Linked DNA regions of Homo sapiens: region 1 is linked to region 2. The links come from fine-mapping of genetic effects on gene expression. A gene starts in region 2. The other region holds a variant in brackets. All regions are shown on one strand. Distances are between the middles of the regions. Region 1 holds the start of ERF (ETS2 repressor factor). Region 2 holds the start of CD79A (CD79a molecule).

Evidence for each region.
Region 1: its variant is fine-mapped to the expression of CD79A in lymphoblastoid cells (GEUVADIS, PIP 0.95).

What each region holds. Positions count from the first base shown.
Region 1 is chr19:42,251,477-42,261,899 of GRCh38, forward strand. It overlaps ERF (ETS2 repressor factor), which reads right to left and starts at 3,652. Exons shown (of 4, transcript NM_006494.4): 1 at 3,502-3,652. The coding sequence starts at 3,523. RefSeq lists silencers at 2,114-2,273, 2,324-2,373, 2,394-2,513, 2,604-2,673, 2,754-3,443 and 2 more and enhancers at 3,209-3,708, 4,349-4,880, 5,676-6,497, 6,498-7,318. The variant C/CA (reference allele first, on the strand shown) is at 5,402.
Region 2 is chr19:41,871,431-41,881,135 of GRCh38, forward strand. It overlaps CD79A (CD79a molecule), which reads left to right and starts at 5,849. Exons shown (of 5, transcript NM_001783.4): 1 at 5,849-5,953; 2 at 7,560-7,859; 3 at 8,105-8,223; 4 at 9,240-9,308; 5 at 9,437-9,705. The coding sequence starts at 5,875. The coding sequence ends at 9,550. RPS19 (ribosomal protein S19) reads left to right here. Exons shown (of 6, transcript NM_001022.4): 6 at 1-1,495. RefSeq lists enhancers at 46-115, 356-615, 1,929-2,178, 4,514-4,583 and a silencer at 5,991-6,050.

The DNA of each region.
Region 1 (10,423 bases), 380 kb after region 2:
GTTGTCATTTCCCAACAACAGGGGCCATCAATAATTCAGCACCAGGCAGCCGGTAATGGAGGGGTGGGAGGAGGGAAAGGGGAGGAAGGGAAGGAGTGGGGAGGCAGAGCAGGGTCCCTGGTGCCACTAGAGAGAGAAGGCCAAGGTGGCCAGCTAAAGATGGGCGGCTCCCAAATCCAGTCAGGCTGCAGGGGTCAATCCGCCTCCCTTGGCCCCAGCTCAAACAGGTACCAACAAGGCCTCCAGGCAACACATCCACCCTCAAAGACTCCACCCAAGTCTGGAATCCAACAAGGGATCCTTCCCCTTGGGAATCCAGGGAATCAGTAGTTCCTGCTCCCACAGGGACCACCCCCTCCAAATCCAGAGCTCACTGTAGGCCCCCAACTCCTGCCCAGACTGGGCTGCAGTACCACATAGCCCCCGGAGTCCCTGCCCCATTCAGATATATCCCAGCCTTCCACCAGCCCCTCAGGGTGCCAGGGATATGACCTCCAGCTGTTCACAGACCAGCACCAACAGCCCCTGTTCCATTTAAAAGTGACAGCCTTTGACAACCCCTTCCAGAGACCCCAGAGCACCATCGCTCTCTTGGGAATCTAGGTGTTCAACCCATTATCCTCACCCTTCTAGAGAATCCAGATCACAAGGTCTCCTGCAAGGCCCAGGGTCCTTTGGAACCCAGGTGACCCAGCCACCAGCTTCATGGACCCTCATATCCCCTCCAAAAAGCTCCCAGCCCCTCTCAGGGAACCAAGCTCCATGTTACTTCCACCTCAGCCCCAATCTGGCTCTAGACCTAGAAGGGGGGCCAAAGCCCCTGAGACATCAATCTGGGGGTGGGGGATGTACTGACTTCCACCCTCCCCCCAAAATTAAAGCCACCCTTCCCAGCCCACCCGCCCCAGCCTCCGTGTCCCGGTAACCAGGCAACGTGTGTGCAGCGACAGTCCTGGGAGCGGGGGAGCAGGAGGCTAAAAATAAACTTTGCAGAAGAGAGGGAGTGAGAGAGACTACATGCAACACAAAGGGAACTCGGAAAGGAGGTGGGGGGGCTCTGGAAAGGCCTCAAGCCGCATTCTGGGAGCTGTCCCAGGCCCCCTTGTTAAACCCCTTCCCTGAGCAACCCCTCCTCCAGGGCCTGGACCCTGGCTCCCACTTCTGGCAGGGACCCTTCCCCACTCCCAAGCCCACCACAACGGCGGCTTTCCTCATCGGACACAGCATACATGAAGGCCTGTTCCCGGCTTTGGGGGGGGGAGAATGAAGAGGGGGTGACGTCAGGGTGTCTCAATGGGGCTCTGTTCCCCAGGCCTTGGAGCCAGGAGCCAGGCACGGGCAAGGGGAGCATGTGTGAGTGTGCTGTGTATGCGTCCACGTGCTTAAAACAGGGAAACACCAGACCTGCACGGAGGAAGCTTGGGGGTGCGGGACCTCGGGAACATGGGGGCCAGTGAGGCAGGGAGAGAGCAGGCACATGGAGAGAGGGGTTCAGGAGACTGCGAGACAGAGTGCAGAAGTGGCAGCAGTCAGACAGCAAGGGCTGGGATGGCGAGGTCCCAGAAGCACACCTGGGTCCCACAGAGGCGGGGTAGGGATTCTCCCAGACAGACTATGCAAGCCTGGGGGGACAAAACTCCTGGGCACCCCCCAACCTCACGTGACGGCCCAAACTTTTTTTAAGGGACTATGAGGGTCGGAAGGGAGGAGTGGTGGCAGAGGAAGAACACGCCGGCCTCCTGGGGGGCCCCACCACCTCCCCCACTCCAGGCGGCCCTCTATGGCGCCAGAGCCGGGAAGAAAACAGGAAGTGGGAAACAGCCACGGCAGAGAGAGGGACCGGGATGGAGAACTGGATGGAGGGGTGCGGAGCGGCAGGCCAGGAGGCAGACGGGAAAGATGCACCGATCGGAGGCCATTCCAGGCCTCCTTCCCCTCCCCTCCCCCAGCCGGAAAACCCACACACTGTCCCGCCCCCCGACAGGGTTGGGGAAGCGACCCGCGGATCCTATCAGGCCAAGGCCGGTAGCAGGGAGAGAAGATGAAGCGAGGTTGTCTGGGTGCCTCGGCCTCCTCCTTGGGCGAGGGTAGGCTCCTGCTGCCCCCAGGGCCCAGCCACCCGGGAGCGAGTGGAAGCCGGGGGAGTGTGTAGGACGCACGTGACTGACCCTACCGCACTCCGCACCCCGGCCCCACCCCCAGGGCCCCTCCTCGGTCCGGGTCCCAATCCCCTGGCGCCGGATCCCAGCTCGGAGCCCTTTAAGATTAAGCCGCCCCCACCCGCCGAGCAGGGGGATGGGGATGGGAATGGGGTGGGAATGGGGTGGGGATGGGGTGGGGTGGGTGGGCCGGTCGGGGCACACACCCGCACACAGGAGCCCGAGCCGCCGCCGCCGCCGCCGCCGCCGCCGGGGGAAGGAAACAAGTTTGAACAGCGGCGCCCGGCCCCCTTCCCCCTCCCCCGTCCCCGCCCCGGGCCGGATTCCGACGGGGTAGACGGGCAGGGGGCGGCTGGGACCCCTCCCCCTGCGCGCTCGGGCGCAAAGTCCAGCCCGCGCGAGCCCGGGGGCGGCGGGGGAGGGGAGGGGGAAAAGTCCGAGTGGGAGGGGGAGTTAATCCCGCTGCCCCCCGCCCGCCGACCGAGGGGGAGGGGAACCTTGGCCCCTTAAGGAGGAGCAAGTTGGCGGGGAAGAGAGGGGCGGAGGGAAGAGACGGCCCGCTGAAAGAGAAGAGGTGGATCCGGGAGGGGGGGCGAGGGGGGAGCCTCTGCGTCTCCCCCCACCTTCCCCACCCTCCTCAACCCCGGGCCACCGGTGGCGCGGGAGGAGGGTACCCAGGTCTCCCCGGAGCCACCTTAAAGCCGCGCGTTCTAAGGTCGGAAACAAAAAGTTCCTTTTTCGAACGTTCGGGCTGCGCTTTGGAACTTTGCGACTCGGCGAGGGCGGGGGAGCGAGGAGCCGACAGAGGCGGGCGGGGGAGGGGCGGCGCAGCCAGGACCCCGAGTCCCGGGCTCCCCACTCACGCCCTCCTCCTAGAGGCCATCCCGTATCCCCCGCTAACCTGGTGCAGGGCACGCGCCGCCGTGAAGGTCACCAGCAGGACCGCGCAGCGCAGAACCAGGGATAGCGGGCCCGGTGGACGAGCCCCCCCGCCCCGCACACGTCCCGGCCCCCAGAGTGCAACGTGACAAGAGCGGAGGGGAAGGACCCCGCCACCCCCGTGATCCCGGGAGTGGGGGAGAGCCCGGCCTGCGGGGTCCCGGTAGGGATACAGGACCAAGACCCGCAGCACCCACACCACTCCGCCCGGAGCCAGGAATCGGGGGTCCCAGGCAGCAACCCCGCTCGCGCCACGAGAAGCAACAGGTCTCCAGTGCTTGAGGGGTCCCCCAGAACTGGGGATCACTCGGGCTCCCCCGGACCCCTTCAGCCCCCCCAAAGTTTCTCCGTTCGGTTTCCCGGGGCAACAAGTCTCCCCCACACGTGCTGCCCCCGCCCCCACCTGTGTCCGCCGGGGTCTTCATGCTGGGGGGCCCGGGGCGAAGCGCCCCGATTCCGGGCCGCGGCTCCCGGCGCCCTCGCTGCCCCGTCCCGTCCCGCGCCCGTCGGGCCGCCCTCGCCGCCTCACCCGGCCTCGCCTCTCAGAGCCTCTCCCCTCCCCGCCGCCGCCTCCCGGGTTAATATCGCACTCCGGGGCCGGGACGCCCACGCCCCCCGGCCGGCGACGTCACCGCCGCGTCGCCATGGAGACACTGCGCCCGCCCCCTCCCCGCGCACTCACACACACGCTCGTCGGCGCGCAGCCACTGAGGACCGGCCGGCTCTGGGCTTAAAGGGGCCGCGCGGCGGGGGAGGGAGGAAGGAGGGGGTGGGGGTGGGATGGGGTCCCGCGGGTCATGACCCTAGTCAGAGGCTCCGAGTCTGCAGCTAACTTAAGTCTTCGGCACTCGCTACCTGCTGCCCCTCCTCCTCTCCTGCCCACTGCGGGCTCCAGAGTTTCTTTTGGGAGCCTGTATGGGAAAACGGGGGGCCCTTCCGAGGAAGCGGGGGTCAGAAACTTTTGTGGGGAGGGGGCAGAATCTTCTCTGCAGAGGGGCGGGGTCAGGACCTTAGAAGATGATGAAGACCACAGCATTTCCCAGCTTGGTTTTACCCAACCCCCCAACCCTGAGCCTGAATGGGGGCAGCTGTCCAGGGGTGGGGTGGAATGGGTGGGATGCATTTCCCAGCATCGGAAATGGGGAGGCGGCTGTGCCCTCCGCTCCTGTGGGGATGGGGTCTTGGCTTCCCTGATAACCCCCGTCCAGCTGGGGAGGAAGTGACCAGAGAGAATGCATTTGGAAGCCCCCACCACCACCGTCCCCAGGCTGCAGCTGTCCCGGGGATAGGGCTGGCGCCGGAGGTCCCCCCACGTCCACTACTAGGACCGGGGGTTCCGGAGGCGGGGCCGGGATACGAGGGGGCGACCAAAGTCTGAACAAATGTGCTCCCAAGGGGCACTGAGGGTCGCCAGGAGAGAGGAAGACAGGGCTTAAGATCGAAAGCCAGAGCGTAGAGAAGTGTTAAGTCTCCGTTCTCTGCCTCAGCCGGGAGGGAAGGATGAAGCCTGAGGCTCTGGGAAACAGGAAATCACAGCGCAGATCTGATGGAGCCCAGGAGCCGGCAGCAGGGTAGAGGCCAAATAGAAGCAATATTCACAGGCATAGCCTGGAAACAGAGTCTCAAAAAAGACTCTGAGGTTCCGAAGGAGGGGCGTATGGGTGGCGGGCGGGAGTTGGGGGGGCTGGGTGGGGGACGAATCCAGAAGATGGGCGGGGAGACAGAAAAGTCACAGATAGGGAAGGCCTGCGGAGCTCAGGCTCCCGGTACCCAGGGCTTCAATCCCAGCCTCCTCGCTTGCGGGGTACCTAGTCCACCTTAGACAGGCTCCTCACCAGTGCCTAAAAAAAAAAGTCTCAGGCCTCCTCCTTGGGGAGACCAAGGGCTCCAGGGAAGCTTTCCCCCACAACCCCCGGGAATTATGTAACCTTGCCTACGGACAGTACAGCTCCCCCACGGATATTGTAACCCTCTGGGAGCGGTGTGGTCCAGCAATAATAATCATCTTCATTGTTCGAATAACAGCTCCCGAATTCCGAGTGTTCATGATGTGCCAGGCACCGGGCCAAGCATTGTCAGGGGCATCTTCTCATTTAATCCTCACAAAATCCCAACGAGGGGAATTACTGCTGTTATCCCCATTTACAGATAAAGAAAGTGATGCTCTCTGAGGGAAAATCAGTCCACTAAATCTTACAGCCAGGAAGTATTGGAACTAAGATTCGAACCCAGATCTAACCAATTCCAAACCACCACATTTACCCTTTACCATTATGCTTTATTACCTCTTTTACTACCCCCTC[C/CA]AAAAAAAAAAAAATGCAGATTTTCAAAGATACTACATCAGGGCCCGGCGCAGTGGCGCACGCCTGTAAACCTAGCACTTTGGGAGCCGAGGCGGGAGATCACTTCAGGTCAGAAGTTCCAGACCAGCCTGGCCAACATGGTGAAACCCCATCTCTACTAAAAGTACAGAAATTTGCCAGGCGTGGTGGCGCACCTGTAATCCCGGCTACTCAGGAGGCTGAGGCAGGAGAATCGCTTGAACCCAGGAGGATCGCTTGAATCCAGGAGGCGGAGGCTGTAGTGAGCCGAGATCGCTCCGCTGCACTCCACCCTGGGTAACAGCAAAACTCCGTCTAAAAATAAATAAATAAAAAGGCTGGGCGCGGTAGCTCACGCCTGTAATCCCAGCACTTTGGGAGGCCGAGGCAGGTGGATCACCTGAGGTCTGTAGTTCGAGACCAGCCTGACCAACATGGAGAAACCCCGTCCCTACTAAAAATACAAAAAATTAGCCGGGCTTGGTGGTGCATGTCTGTAATCCCAGCTGCTCGGGAGGCTAAGGTAGAATCGCTTGAACCCGGGAGGGGGTTGGTTGCGGTGAGCTGAGATCGCGCCATTGCACTCCAGCCTGGGCAACAAGAGCGAAACTCAGTTTCAAAACAAACAAACAAACAAAAAGATAACACATCAGTAACAAACCCAGTGACCCCTACCCTCCCACCAGCAAGACAGAGATGAGTTACACCCAACCTTTTTTTTTTTTTTTTGAGACGGAGTCTCACTCTGTCGTCCAGGGTGGAGTGCAGTGGCCCCATCTCGGCTCACTGCAAGCTCCGCCTCCCGGGTTCACGCCATTCTCCTGCCTCAGCCTACTGAGTAGCTGGGACTACAGGCGCCCCCCACCACGCCCGGCTAATCTTTTGTATTTTTAGTAGAGACAGGGTTTCACCGTGTTAGCCAGGATGGTCTCAATCTTCTGACCTCGTGATCCGCCAGCCTCAGCCTCCCAAAGTGCTGGGATTACATGTGTGAGCCACCACACCTGGCTGTTACACCCAACCTTTGCTACTTCTTGTCTCTGACAAGGCAAGTGAACTCAGTTCACCTCTTTTTTTTTTTTTTTTTTTTTTTGAGATGGGGGTCTCACTGTGTTGCCCAGGCTGGATTGCAGTGGCACAATAATGGCTCACTACAGCCTCGACTTCCCTGCCTCAAGCAATTCTCCCACTTCAGCCTCCTGAGTAGCTGGGACTACAGACACATGCCACCATGCCCAGTTACTTTTTTTTTTTTTTGAGATGGAATTTTGCTCTTGTCACCCAGGCTGTAAGTGCAATGGCACGATCTTGGCCCACTGCAACCTCTGCCTCCCTGGTTCAAGCAATTTTCCTGTCTCAGCCTCCTGAGTAGCTGGAATTACAAGCGCCCACCACCATGCCCAGCTTTTTTTTTTTTTTTTTTTTTTTGAGACGCAGTTTTGCTCTCCTTGCCCAGGCTGGAGTGCAGTGACACCATCTTGGCACATCGCAACCTCCGTCTCCTGGGTTCAAGCAATTCTCCTGCCTCAGCCTCCCGAGTAGCTAGGATTACAGGCATGCGCCACCACGCCCAGCTAATTTGTATTTTTAGTAGAGACGGGGTTTTTCCATGTTGGTCAGGCTGGTTTTGAACTCCTGACCTCAGATGATCCACCCGCCTCAGCATCCCAAAGTGCTGGGATTACAGGCGTGAGCCACCATGCCCAGCCAACCCAGCTAATTTTTTTTTATTTTTAGTGGAGTTGGGGTCTCTCTGTGTTGACCAGGATAGTCTCCAACTCCTGGGCTCAAACGATCCGCCCACCTTGGCCTCCCAGAGTGCTGGAATTACAGGTGTGAGTCACCCTGCCTAGCGAAGTTCACCTCTTTTTTTTTTTTTTTTTTTTTGAGATGGAGTCTCGCTCTTTCGCCCAGGCCAGACTGCAGTGGCGCTATCTCGGCTCACTGTAAGCTCCGCCTCCCGGGTTCACGCCATTCTCCTGCCTCAGCCTCCCGAGTAGCTGGGACTACAGGCACCCGCCATCACGCCCAGCTAATTTTGTGTATTTTTAGTAGAGACGGGATTTCACCGTGTTAGCCAGAATGGTCTCGATCTCCTGACCTCGTGATCCGCCCTCCTTGGCCTCCCAAAGTGCTGGGATTACAGGCGTGAGCCACTGCGCCTGGCCAAGTTCACCTCTTTGAGCCTCAATTTTCCTCATTTGTAAAATGGAGGTGTTAATAGATCCTACATGATCAAGTTATTGTGAAAAATCAGAGATGTGGCCAGGCGAGGTGGCTCACACCTGTAATCCCAGCACTTTGTGAGGCCGAGGCAGGTGGATCACCTGAGGTCAGGAGTTCCAGACCATCCTGGCCAACATGGTGAAAACCCGTCTCTATTAAAAATACAAAAATTAGCTGGGCGTGGTGGCTGGCGCCTGTAATCCTAGCTACTCAGGAGGCTAAGGCAGGAGAATCATTTGAACCCGGGAGGCGGAGGTTGCAGTGAGCCGAGATCATGCCATTGCACTCCAGCCTGAGTGACAGGGCGATACTCCGTCTTAAAAAAAAAAAAAAAAGAAAAAAAGAAAAATCAGAGATGCAAAGTAAGTATGCAATAAATACTGTTAATAATTATTAGCAGAGTGAACTCTATGCCCCATGGATAACAAGAGCACTCTACCCTACAGACTCCAACTGTAACAACAGTTAGAGTAAACAGCAATAAACAGGCTGGCTGCAGTTTGTGTCTGACACATGTAATCCCAGCACTTTGGGAGGCCGAAGCAGGAGAATTTCAAGAGGCCAGGAGTTCAAGACCAGCCTGGGCAACAGAGTGAGACTCTCTCTACAAAAAATTTATTTATTTTTTTTTTTATTTATTTGAGATGGAGTCTCCCTGTGTCACCCAGGATGCAGTGCAGTGGCAGGATCTCAGCTCACTGCAACCTCTTCCTCCCAGGTTCAAGCAATTCTCCTGCCTCAGCCTCCCGAGTAGCCTAGATTACAGGCTTGCGCCACCACGCCCGGCTAATTTTGTGTTTTTAGTAGAGATGGGGTTTCTCCATGTTGGCCAGGCTGGTCTCGAACTCCTGACCTCAGGTGATCCGCCCACCTCGGCCTCCCAAAGAGCTGGGATTACAGGCGTGAGCCACCAAGCCTGGCCGGGAGGATGGTTCTTACTGGCAGATCTGTGTCCGTGGTGTCCAAAGGGCAGCCCAGGCTTATGTTTTCTTTTTCTTCTTTTTTTTTTTTTTAATTTTTATTTTAAGTTCTGGGATACATGTGCAGGACGTACAGGTTTGTTACATAGGTAAACGTGTGTCATGGTGGTTTACTGCACCTATCAACCCATCACCTAGGTGTTAAGGGACATTTTTTCTTAAAAATAAAATTTAAAAAAATAAAGCACACTGCACTGACAGTGTGAAATTGTGTATTAATGTCATAATCCCACTCTGACCCAGATGGTTGGCTCAAACTCAGTGTTTCTATGAAACACAATCACGGATGATCGGCATGCCTCGTGGGAGAATCTGAACGATCCGCGGAGAGTGAAAGTCCCTCGTGAAAATGTCGTCTGGGCCTCTTAAGTTTGGTGGTTTGTGCAAACGTGTCCATGGATATTGTAATCTTTCAGTGGCCTATGTGACTCCAATTGCTTTATCAACACTGATACCCACCCCCAGAGATGGTAGAGATGGTGAAATATTGGCCAGGTGCGGTGGCTCATGCCCGTAATCCCAGCACTTTGGGAGGCTGAGGTGGGCAGGTGGATCACCTGAGGTCAGGAGTTCAAGTCCAGCCTGGCCAACATGGTGAAACCCTGTCTCTACTAAAACTACAAAAATTAGCTGGACATGGTGTCGGGTGCCTGTAACCCCAGCTACTCAGAAGGCTGAGGCAGGAGAATCGATTGAACCCAGGAGACAGATGTTGCAGTGAGCTGAGATTGGGTTCAAGTGATTCTCCTGCCTCAGACTCCCGAGTAGCTAGGATTACAGGCGCACGCCACCATGCCCAGCTAATTTGTTTTTGTATTTTTAGTAGAGGCAGGGTTTCACCATGTTGCCACGCTGGTCTCAAACTCCTGACCTCAGGTAACCACCCTCTTTGGCCTCCTGAAGTGCTGAGATTACAGGCCTGAGCCACCACACCCAGCTTTTTTATTTTTTATTTATTATTTTTTTTTTGAGGTGGAATTTCGCTTCGTCACCCAGGCTGGAGTGCGTTGGCACGATCTCGGCTCACTGTCACCTCCACCTCTTGGGTTCAAGCAATTCTGCCTCAGCCTCCCAAGTAGCTGCGATTACAAGTACCCGCCACCACGCCTGGCTGAAAACCCTGTTTTCTTCCCCCCCGAGACAGAGTCTTTCTCTATTACCCAGGCTGGAGTGCAGTGGCACAATCTTGGCTCACTGCAACCACCGCCTCCCGGGTTCAACCTATTCTTCTGCCTCAGCCTCCCAAGTAGCTGGGATTACAGGTGCCCACCACCATGCCCGGCTAATTTTTGTATTTTTAGTAGAGATGGGGTTTCAACATGTTGGACAGGCTGGTCTTGAACTCCTGACCTCGTGATCTGCCTCAGCCTCCCAAAGTGCTGGGATTACAGGCGTGAGCCACCGAGCCCTGTTTCTTTCTTTCTTTTTTTTTTTTTGAGACGGAGTCTCACCATGTCGCCCAGGCTGGAGTGCAGTGGCGCAATCTCAGCTCACTGCAACTCAGCCTCCCGGGTTCACGCCATTCTCCTGCCTCAGCCTCCCAAGTAGCTGGGACTACAGAGGCCCGCCACCACGCCCAGCTAATTTTTTGTATTTTTTGTAGAGATGGGCTTTCACCATGTTAGCTAGGATGGTCTCGATCTCCTGACCTCGTGATCCGCCTGCCTCAGCCTCCAAAAGTGCTGGGATTACAGGCGTGAGCCACTGCACCCGGCCTAACCCTGTTTCTTAAGAAAAAAAGATAGTGTGATGCGGGGGATTGAGTCCAATCTCTCCCCCTCTGCAAAACCCTGTTGCA
Region 2 (9,705 bases):
TCTTTTTTGAGTCTCTTGCTCTGTCGCCCAGGCTGGAGTGCAGTGGCGCCATCTCAGCTCACTGCAATCTCCGCCTTCTGGGTTCAAATGATTCTCCTGCCTCAGCCTCCCAAAGTGCTGGGATTACAAGTGTGAGCCACTGTGCCTGGTCTGGTTTGGGTCTCTTGATTGTTCTTCAGGGGCATGAGGAAGAGGCGCTTCCTCCCTTCCCTTGGGTGAGGGGGCCCAGGGTGATTGGGTGGCTGTTTACCCGGCAGCCAGTCGGGCCTTCCCAGGTCAAACAGTTCCCATCTGGGTTTGGAGGAAGGACCCAGGGGCCCTTGTGGCTCACTCCCCCACATCCTGTCTTTGCAATTGTCAGAAAGTGAGAAACGAAAGGATGGCTGTGAGCTGTGACCTCAGCTGGGCCTGGGCTGCAGAGGTGGCTTCCGCTGGAGTAAAGCAAGAGGGCCCAGGGTTCATGCTCTTCCCTGGAAGGTAGAAAAGGACAGACCACCAGGGAGCCTCCACCGCAAACTGACCTGTGCTGCCTACACACTAACTTTCCTGGGCCTGGGGCCTGCACAGGCTGAATGGTCCTTGAGCCTTCACTCTGCATCTGAGCGGTCTTGGGCCCGCTGAGTGGCAGTGGCAGGAAGTCGGTGGAAGCAGATCCCTGTGCAGAAGTTGAATTACCAGGGCGGCCACACACGGGCTGCACAACCTTTGCAGTCGTGCACGGCAAGTGGGATGTGGCCTCCGCCCATGATTGGGCACCTGGTCAGGCTGGGAGATCCAAATAGCACCCAGTGGGCAGCTGTCCGACCCCTGGAGGGGCAAGCCAGGAAAGAAACTTAGGGCCCGCTGTGACCAGATGTCCCTCCCAGTTGGGAAGACTAAACTGGTTTGGCCAATATCTCCCAGGATTCCCCTGTCCAAATTATTCCTGGGATCTGACCCATTTCCTGGAAAGGGGCGAGCCTGGGTTTTGAAGTTCAAACTAGAGTTTAAATCACAACTCTGCCCCTAATCCCACGTAACCCTGTGCACCTTATCCTCTGAGCCTTCGTCTCCTCGTGTGTAAGCCTGCTAACTCCTGAGAGACTGGACAAGATGCCGTGGAGAGCCTTGGCTCTGAGTAGCTCTGCTGCTGGACAGTTCAGTTGGCAGTCCCCAAACGTAAGGCGTAAGAGTTTAAGAAGTATCGGCCAGGCACAGTGGCTCACACCTGTAATCTCAACACTTTGGGAGGCCGAGACGGGCTGATCACCTGAGGTTGGGAGCTTGAGAACAGCCTGACCAACATGGAGAAACCCTGTCTCTAAAAATACCAAAATTAGTTGGGCATGGTGGCGCGCACCTGTAATCCCAGCTACTCAGGAGGCTGAGGCAGAAGAATCGCTCGAACCCCGGAGGCGGAGGTTGCAGTGGGTTGAGATCGAGCAATTGCAATCCAGCCTGGGCAACAGAGCGAGACTCCATTTCAAAAAAAGAATCAATAAAAATGTTAAAAGCACCGTTGTTTACACTCAGCAACTCTGTGAAGTAAGTGCCGAAAAGTGCTTTGGAGGTAGGTAAAGTAAGCCATAGGCTGGGTAACTTGCCAGATATCCCACAGCTGGAGCCATCATATGAACCCAAGCAACCCAGCTGCAGCCTGGACCTAGCCACTCCAAGGGCTCTGTGCCTCAGAAAAGAGGCCCAAAGGGTTGCACTCTAGCTGCAGGCCAGTCACTCCCCATTCTGGGCTCTAGTTTCCTCTTTTGGCCATTAATGAAAACATTTCCCAGAGCTGACATGAGAACTCAATGCCAAGCGTCCGGTTTGCACAGCAGCAGGCATTGCGCTTCCCAGGTAGGAAGCAAGGTCTAGGTGTCCCGAGCAGGCCTGCAATCCCGCAGCCGCGCCGCTCCAGCCACTGGGGAGCAGTAGAGGGCCTAGAAAGAAGCTCAGCCACCGAAGGCTCTTGAAGGTGAATTCCTAGGGCTTCCAGGTCTGGAGCCAGGCTTATTCCTGGGAGGGGGTTGTAACGGGGAATTGAAGTGCAGAGGGGCTAGTGACCCCAGCAGAACACCTGGGGTCCTGGTTCCCAGGGCTACAGAACTGTCCTAGATACTGTGCCAAATGCACTGCAGAATATTCTTGCAGTCTTATCAAGTGGGGGGTTTGTACCCATGTTATAGGAGAAAAAACTGAGTTTCAGATGACCAGTCAGTTGGCAGAGCTGAGTTGTAAAAGAATCCTGGACTCTTGAGGCCCAGGCTCTTCTGCGTGGATGGGAATTGCCCTTTTCCCATCTCCTGGGTTCACGCCATTCTGCCTCAGCCTCCCCAGCAGCTGGGACTACAGGCACACGCCGCCATGCCCGGCTAATTTTTGTATTTTTAGTAGAGACGGGGTTTCACTGTGTTAGCCAGGATGGTTTTGATCTCCTGACCTTCTGATCCGCCCGCCTCAGCCTCCCAAAGTGTTGGGATTACAGGCGTGAGCCACCGCGCCCAGCTGGCAATTGCACTTTTTTAAAATTCTGCACTCTAGGAGGCAGAGGTGGGCAGATCACTTGAGGTCAAGAGTTTGAGACCTTGGCCTGGAGTGGTGGCTCACACCTGTAATCCCAACACTTGGAGAGGCCGAGGCAGGTGGATCACCTGAGGTCAGAAGTTCGAGACCAGCCTGGCCAACATGATGGAACCCTGTCTCTACTAAAAAATACAAAAATTAGCTGGACGTGGAGGCAGGAGAATCGCTTGAATGCAGGAAGTGGAGGTCACAGTGAGCCAAGATTGCACCATTGTACTCCAGTCTGGGCGACAAGAGTGAAACACCGTCTCAAAAAAAAAAAAAAAAAAGAGTTTGAGACCAGCCTGGCCAACATGGTGAAACCCTGTGTCTATGAAAAAAAAAATTGGCTGGGCATGGTGGTGCACACCTGTAATTCCAGCTACTTGGGAGGCTGAGACAGGAGAACAGCTTGAACCCAGGAGGCGGAGGCTGCAGTGAGCCAAGATTGTGCCGCCACTGCACTTCAGCCTGGGCAACAGAGCAAGACTCCATCTCAAAAAAAAAAATCTGAAATACTTCAGGCATGCAAGTATTTAGCATTCAGTATTCATAATGTAAGAAAAACCTATGAAGCACAACCCAGTTTAAGTAACACAGGCAGGGCAGGGTGCAGTGCCTATAATCCCAGCACTTCGGGAGGCCAAGCTGGGAGAATCACTTGAGGTCAGGACTTCCAGGCCAGCCTGGGCAACACAGTGAGACCCTGTCTTTACAAAAAATTTAAAAAATAGGCCCAGTGCGGTGGATCATGCCTGTAATCCCAGCACTTTGGGAGGCCGAGGCGAGTGGATCATCAGGTCAGGAGATTGAGACCATCCTGGCTAACACGGTGAAACCCCATCTCTACTAAAAAAATACAAAAAATTAGCCGGTCATGGTGGCATCTGCTTGTAGTCCCAGCTACTCAGGAGGCTGAGGCAGGAGAATCACTTGAACCCGGGAGGCGGAGGTTGCAGTGAGCCAAGATCACACCATCGCACTCCAGCCTGGGCTACACAGCGAGACTCTGTCTCAAAAGAAAAAAAAAATTAAAAATAGCCAGGCATGGTGTGTGCACCTGTAATCCCAGCTACTTGGGAAGCTGAGGCAAGAGAATCACTTGAGCCCAGGAGTTTGACGTTATGATTATGCCACTGGACACCAGCCTTGGTGACAGAGAGAGGCCCTATCTCTAAAAAAGAAAAAAAAAAAAGTGGCCAGCCACGGTGGCTCCCGCCTGTAATCCCAGCACTTTGGGAGGCTGAGGTGGGTGGATTACCTGAGGTCAGGAGTGTGAGACCAGCCTGCCCAACATGGTGAAACCTGGTCTCTACTAAAAATACAAAAATATAGCCAGGCATGGTGGTGGCCGCCTGTAATCCCAGCTACTGAGGAGGCTGAGGCAGGAGAATCACTTGAACCTGGGAGGCAGAGGTTGCAGTGAGCCAAGATCACGCCACTGCACTTCAGCCTGGGTGACAAAGCGAGACTCCGTCTCAAAAAAAAAAAAAAAAAAAGTAACACAGGAAATAAAACCAAGACAAGATGAGCTCTCTGTGTCTCTGTGTGTCCCTCCCCAGACCCAACCCTGGCGTCCCCCAGAGGTAACCCCTCCCAGGAACTGGGCGTTTGCCACTCCCCTGCACGGGTCTACACCTCTGCTACAAACGTGTGTCCCTAAGCAGCGGACGCCTTTTGAAAACAAGTCAACTGTATCATGCTACGATATTTTTTCTGATGTTTGTGCTGTTTCTGAGACAGCCTTATGACACCTTCCCCTATTCTGTAGCATTCTGTTGGCTCACTTTGCCACAGTGTATGCACCCATTCTCCCACAAATGGACTTTTCATTTGCTTCTCAATGTTTGCTACCAAAAATCTCCCTGCAATAAATTTATTTTATATATCCCCTTGTATGTGTGTGAGGGTCCCCTAACTGCTCACAAATATCTCAGCAACTCCGCCCTCCCCACTCAGACCTCATTTCCCTCCTACCAGACATGCTCAAAGGAAACTGGGAGCAACACAAAGATGACTTTGAATCTCTGTCCACCACCCCTAGACTGTATGACACCCGCAAGTGACAACCTCCCCTCTCTGGCCTCGGTTTCCCCCTCTGTAAAATGGGGGATGGCCTACCTTGCCAGTCATGGCAGGTCAATATAAAACAACTTCTGGCTGTGCACAGTGGCACATGCCTGTAATCCCAGCACTTTGGGAAGCTGAGGCAGGAGGATTGCTTGAGGCCAGGAGTTCAAGACCAGCCTGGGCAATATAGCAAGATCCCATCCCTCTTAAAAAAAAAAAAGAAGAAAAATATATGTTGTTGTTGTTATTATTGTTATTATTAGAGACAGAGTTTCGCTTTTGTCACCCAGGCTGGAGTGCAATGGTGTGATCTCAGCTCACTGCAACCTCCACCTCCTGGGTTCAACTGATTCTCCTGCCTCAGCCTCCTGAGTAGCTGGAATAATAGGCATGTGCCACAACATCTGGCTAATTTTGTATTTTTAGTAGAGATGGGGTTTCGCCATGTTGGCCAGGCTGGTCTCAAACTCGACCTCAGGTGATTCTCCTGTCTCAGCCTCCCAAAGGGCTGGGATTACAGGCATAAGCCACCATAGCTGGCCTGTTTTTTTAAAAAAAGAATTCCAGTAAAGAGCTGATCATGGTTCTCACTCCTTGAATACCAGGAACACCATCTCGTATCACATAATGAGACAGGGAGACATTCTGGTCCTCATCTCACAGATGAAAAATGTCAAGCTTCGAAGGATCAAAGTGCCCACCTAGTCACACGGGTAGTCAGCCACAGGTCAGCCTGCCTTATTTATTCTTCATGAGTATTTATAGTGACTAACATTTACTGGGCGCCTACTGTGGGCCATTTCTGTGCATGTGACAACCCCTTTAAGTCCTTGTTTCTAATCCCAAGAAGCAAGGAAATGGGGTCAGGGAAGGGACAAGGTTTGCCCAAGTCCAGGCAGGGGGAGAGGTCAAGCTCAGAACCATCACCTGCCCATGACACATGCCCAGGACTCAGGTTCCCTAGGCTTCCTTCCAAAGGCTCAGCAGTGACGAGCCAGCCCTTGAACCAGCCTCTTCCCCCACCCAAGCAGCCACCTCTCAGGGGAATTGTGGCCACCACAGGTGCAGGGAGCAGTTTCTCTCCACTCACAGCCTGAAGCATACCCGGCAGGGGCTGTCCCCAGGCCCAACAAGCAAAGGGCCCAGTAGCGAGGGCCACTGGAGCCCATCTCCGGGGGGCTGGGCAGGAAGTAGGGTGGGGTTTGGGGTAGGGATCTGGTACCCTGGGACTGCTGCAACTCAAACTAACCAACCCACTGGGAGAAGATGCCTGGGGGTCCAGGAGTCCTCCAAGCTCTGCCTGCCACCATCTTCCTCCTCTTCCTGCTGTCTGCTGTCTACCTGGGTATGTGGCCAAAGGGCAGGAACTGGCGGGAGGTGGGGGAAGCTGTGGAGGCTGCAGAGAGGGCACAGGCAGAGGGAAGGGGGCTCAGGGAAAGGGGAAGAGGAGGCAGAGGATAGGGGACCCAGGGAAGATGCCTATAGAAATCGTATCTGTGCCAAGATGGGCCAAGGTGGGGCTGGAGGGAGCCCAGCGAAGGAGAAGGGGCGTCCACAGTCTCACACAGGGAGGCAGGAGCAAGAGTCACCTCCCCCACCTCCTGTTCCCCACAGGCCAAAATAAGGAACTAAAGTTGCTCTTGACTGAGCACCAGGGCTGGGGGCAGGAAGGGGACTTAGGGGTAGCAGCATTCAGCGTCTGTCAAGGGGAGAAAAAGCTTTCTCTGCCTTAAACCTCAGGTGCCTCTCTCTGTTGGGAGTCCCTTCTCAGCACTGGGGGAATGGGTGTCTCATGGACTCCCCCTCACCTGCTCAAGGACAGCTGGCAGGGGCTGTGGCCACGCTAACCCAGGAGTTCAGAGAAAAAGGTTCCCCACCCAAGGGGACACTGGGAGCAAGGATTGGAGTTCACGTCTGAGTCTTAAGCCCGTGACGATGAGGGTGCTCGGCCCCTCTCCCCATCTCTTCCTCCTTCTCTCTTCCTCACCTCCCTCCTCCACCTACCTCCAGAAGAGGGGACTGGCCATGTGGGAGGCCTGGCTGAGAGCTGGGGCTTCCCAGAGGAGCCCGGATTGGACACTGCAGCCAGCCTGAGCCGCCTCGTCTCACTCAGAGACACCCCCAGTCTCCACCCCGCTCTGAGCCCCTTCAATCACCAGCAGCCCAGCCCAAGGACTGAACTCACCCCTGACCCCTAGGTTGACACATACAACTTACAGAGAATGAGGGCCAGGCACAGGGTCACAGGCCAGGGCAGGCCACAGACTGGCTCCTCAGCCCAGGCAGGGAGAGGCCAGGGAGCCAAGAGTTTGAACCCAGTGCCACTCCTGACTGCCTGGTGATGCTGGCAACCCGCCTGCCCTCCCAGAGCCTCAGCCATCCCTCCTGTAAAATGGGGCTAAGGAGAGAACCTACTTCTAGGGTTCTGTGAATGATTACACAAGAAAAAGCGCCAGGTGCTGGGCCTGGCTGAGGCTGGGGTGCAAAAATGGACCGGGAAGGCTGCGGGAGGAGGGGACGCCTGCACTGCTTCTGGAAGGAGCTGTCTGGACAGCGGTCCTCCAGTGCCTGGAACAAACATCCAAAATCCAGAGAGTTCACAGGGCCAGAGTACAAAGTGGGTATGCGGGAGGGGGGCAAGAGATGGCGCTGCAGAGGTGAGAAGGGCCTCCCAGGGGTCTTACCATCCCAGGGAGTCTCATTCTCCTCTCCCAGGATATCCTCACCCACCCCAACCAGGTATGTCCTCTCTCCTTCCCAGGGGCTTCTTCACTTTCCCGCATCCCCCCTCTCCCCAGGATGTATCAGCCCCTGTCAGGGGCTCTCTCTCTCCCTCCCCACCCAGGAGAGTCCTCACCCTCTTCCCAGGAGTGCTGGAACTGCAGGGGCCAGGGCTGGGGAAATGTGTCACCATCCCCAGTCCCTGACCCACCCACCCTGTCTCTCCACAGGCCCTGGGTGCCAGGCCCTGTGGATGCACAAGGTCCCAGCATCATTGATGGTGAGCCTGGGGGAAGACGCCCACTTCCAATGCCCGCACAATAGCAGCAACAACGCCAACGTCACCTGGTGGCGCGTCCTCCATGGCAACTACACGTGGCCCCCTGAGTTCTTGGGCCCGGGCGAGGACCCCAATGGTACGCTGATCATCCAGAATGTGAACAAGAGCCATGGGGGCATATACGTGTGCCGGGTCCAGGAGGGCAACGAGTCATACCAGCAGTCCTGCGGCACCTACCTCCGCGTGCGCCGTGAGTGGCCCAGCCCTGGCCCCTACTCCCACTGTCCCGCTGGGGACACTCGGTTTATCTTTGAAGTGGGGATAGAGCCAGTACCTTCAATGTGGGTTTCAAACCGGCTTGGACAGAGGGACGGACATTCTCCTCTGCAGAGTGGGGTCTCTGGGGGGTCTGGGGCCTTGCAGGAGGTGGGCGGGGCCAGGAGGCTAGGGAGGGCAAGAGGGGCCAGGGCTCTGAGCCATACTACCTCCTTGCAGAGCCGCCCCCCAGGCCCTTCCTGGACATGGGGGAGGGCACCAAGAACCGAATCATCACAGCCGAGGGGATCATCCTCCTGTTCTGCGCGGTGGTGCCTGGGACGCTGCTGCTGTTCAGGGTGAGCCCCCTCGGACCTCTGAGTCAGCCGGGCGAGGGCCTGGGCCGAGGGACCCCCAATACCCAGGTAGCCCTCTAGAGCCTGAGGTTCCCCATCCAAAACTTGGGAGAATGAAAGCACCCACCATATAGGGGCTGTGGGAGTTAAATGAATGAATATAAAGAAGGGACTTGAACTGGCGCTGAGCCCAGGGGGTGTCTTCAATTTAGTTTCCCCTTCTGGGCTGTCCTCACGTCCACCTCCCCCCAAGAAGAGTCTCATTCTTCTCCCTAAGAGTGTCCTCACTCCCCTCCTGCCCTCACCCAGGAGTGTGGTTACCCTCCAGGTGTAGCCAAGACCAGGGAAGGTGGGGCCTGGTCCTCCCAGAATCTCTGATCTGTACCAGCCTCTCCTTAGGCACTACAGAAAGTGTGACTGTTATTGTTATTATTCATGGAGAATAGTAAGGGAGTGGAGACTCAAGAAGACGCTAGCTTGGGAGGCCGAGGCAAGAGGATCACTTGAGGCCACAAGTTTGAGACCAGCCTGGGCAACACAGCAAGACCCTATCTCTACACACACAAAGTCTTAAAAAAAAATTAGCCAGGCATGGTGGCACACACCTATAGTCCCAGCTACTCAGGAGGCTGAGGTGGGAGGATTGCTTGAGCCCAGGAGTTCAAGGCTGCAGTGAAATATGATGTTGCCACAGCACTTCAGCCTGGGCAACTGAGGGAGAAGAAAGAGAGAGAGAGAGAAAGAGAGAGAGAGAGAGAGAGAGAGAGAGAGGGCGAGAGGGAGGGAGGGAAGGAAGGGAAGGGAAGGAAGGAAGGAAGGAAGGAAGGAAGGAAGGAAGGAAGGAAGGAAGGAAGGAGAACACTGGTTGTAGACTCAGAGAGAACTGTTACATAACCAGTATGTGGCCTTGGGGACATCTCTTACCCTTTCTGGAAAAGTACTTCCTGGCATCCAGGAGGGTCTGAAAGATATTCACCTCCCCCTGCTCACTGAGGCACCCACCCCACCCACCCCTACAGAAACGATGGCAGAACGAGAAGCTCGGGTTGGATGCCGGGGATGAATATGAAGATGAAAACCTTTATGAAGTGAGTGAAGGGTGGGGATGGGGTAGGGGCAGTTGTGTTAGGGGTGGGGGTGTTCCCTCTGGGGGTGGCTGGGGGCAGGGACCCCAGGTGTCAGGGTGCTGATGTTCGCTGCCTCATTTCCATCCCAGGGCCTGAACCTGGACGACTGCTCCATGTATGAGGACATCTCCCGGGGCCTCCAGGGCACCTACCAGGATGTGGGCAGCCTCAACATAGGAGATGTCCAGCTGGAGAAGCCGTGACACCCCTACTCCTGCCAGGCTGCCCCCGCCTGCTGTGCACCCAGCTCCAGTGTCTCAGCTCACTTCCCTGGGACATTCTCCTTTCAGCCCTTCTGGGGGCTTCCTTAGTCATATTCCCCCAGTGGGGGGTGGGAGGGTAACCTCACTCTTCTCCA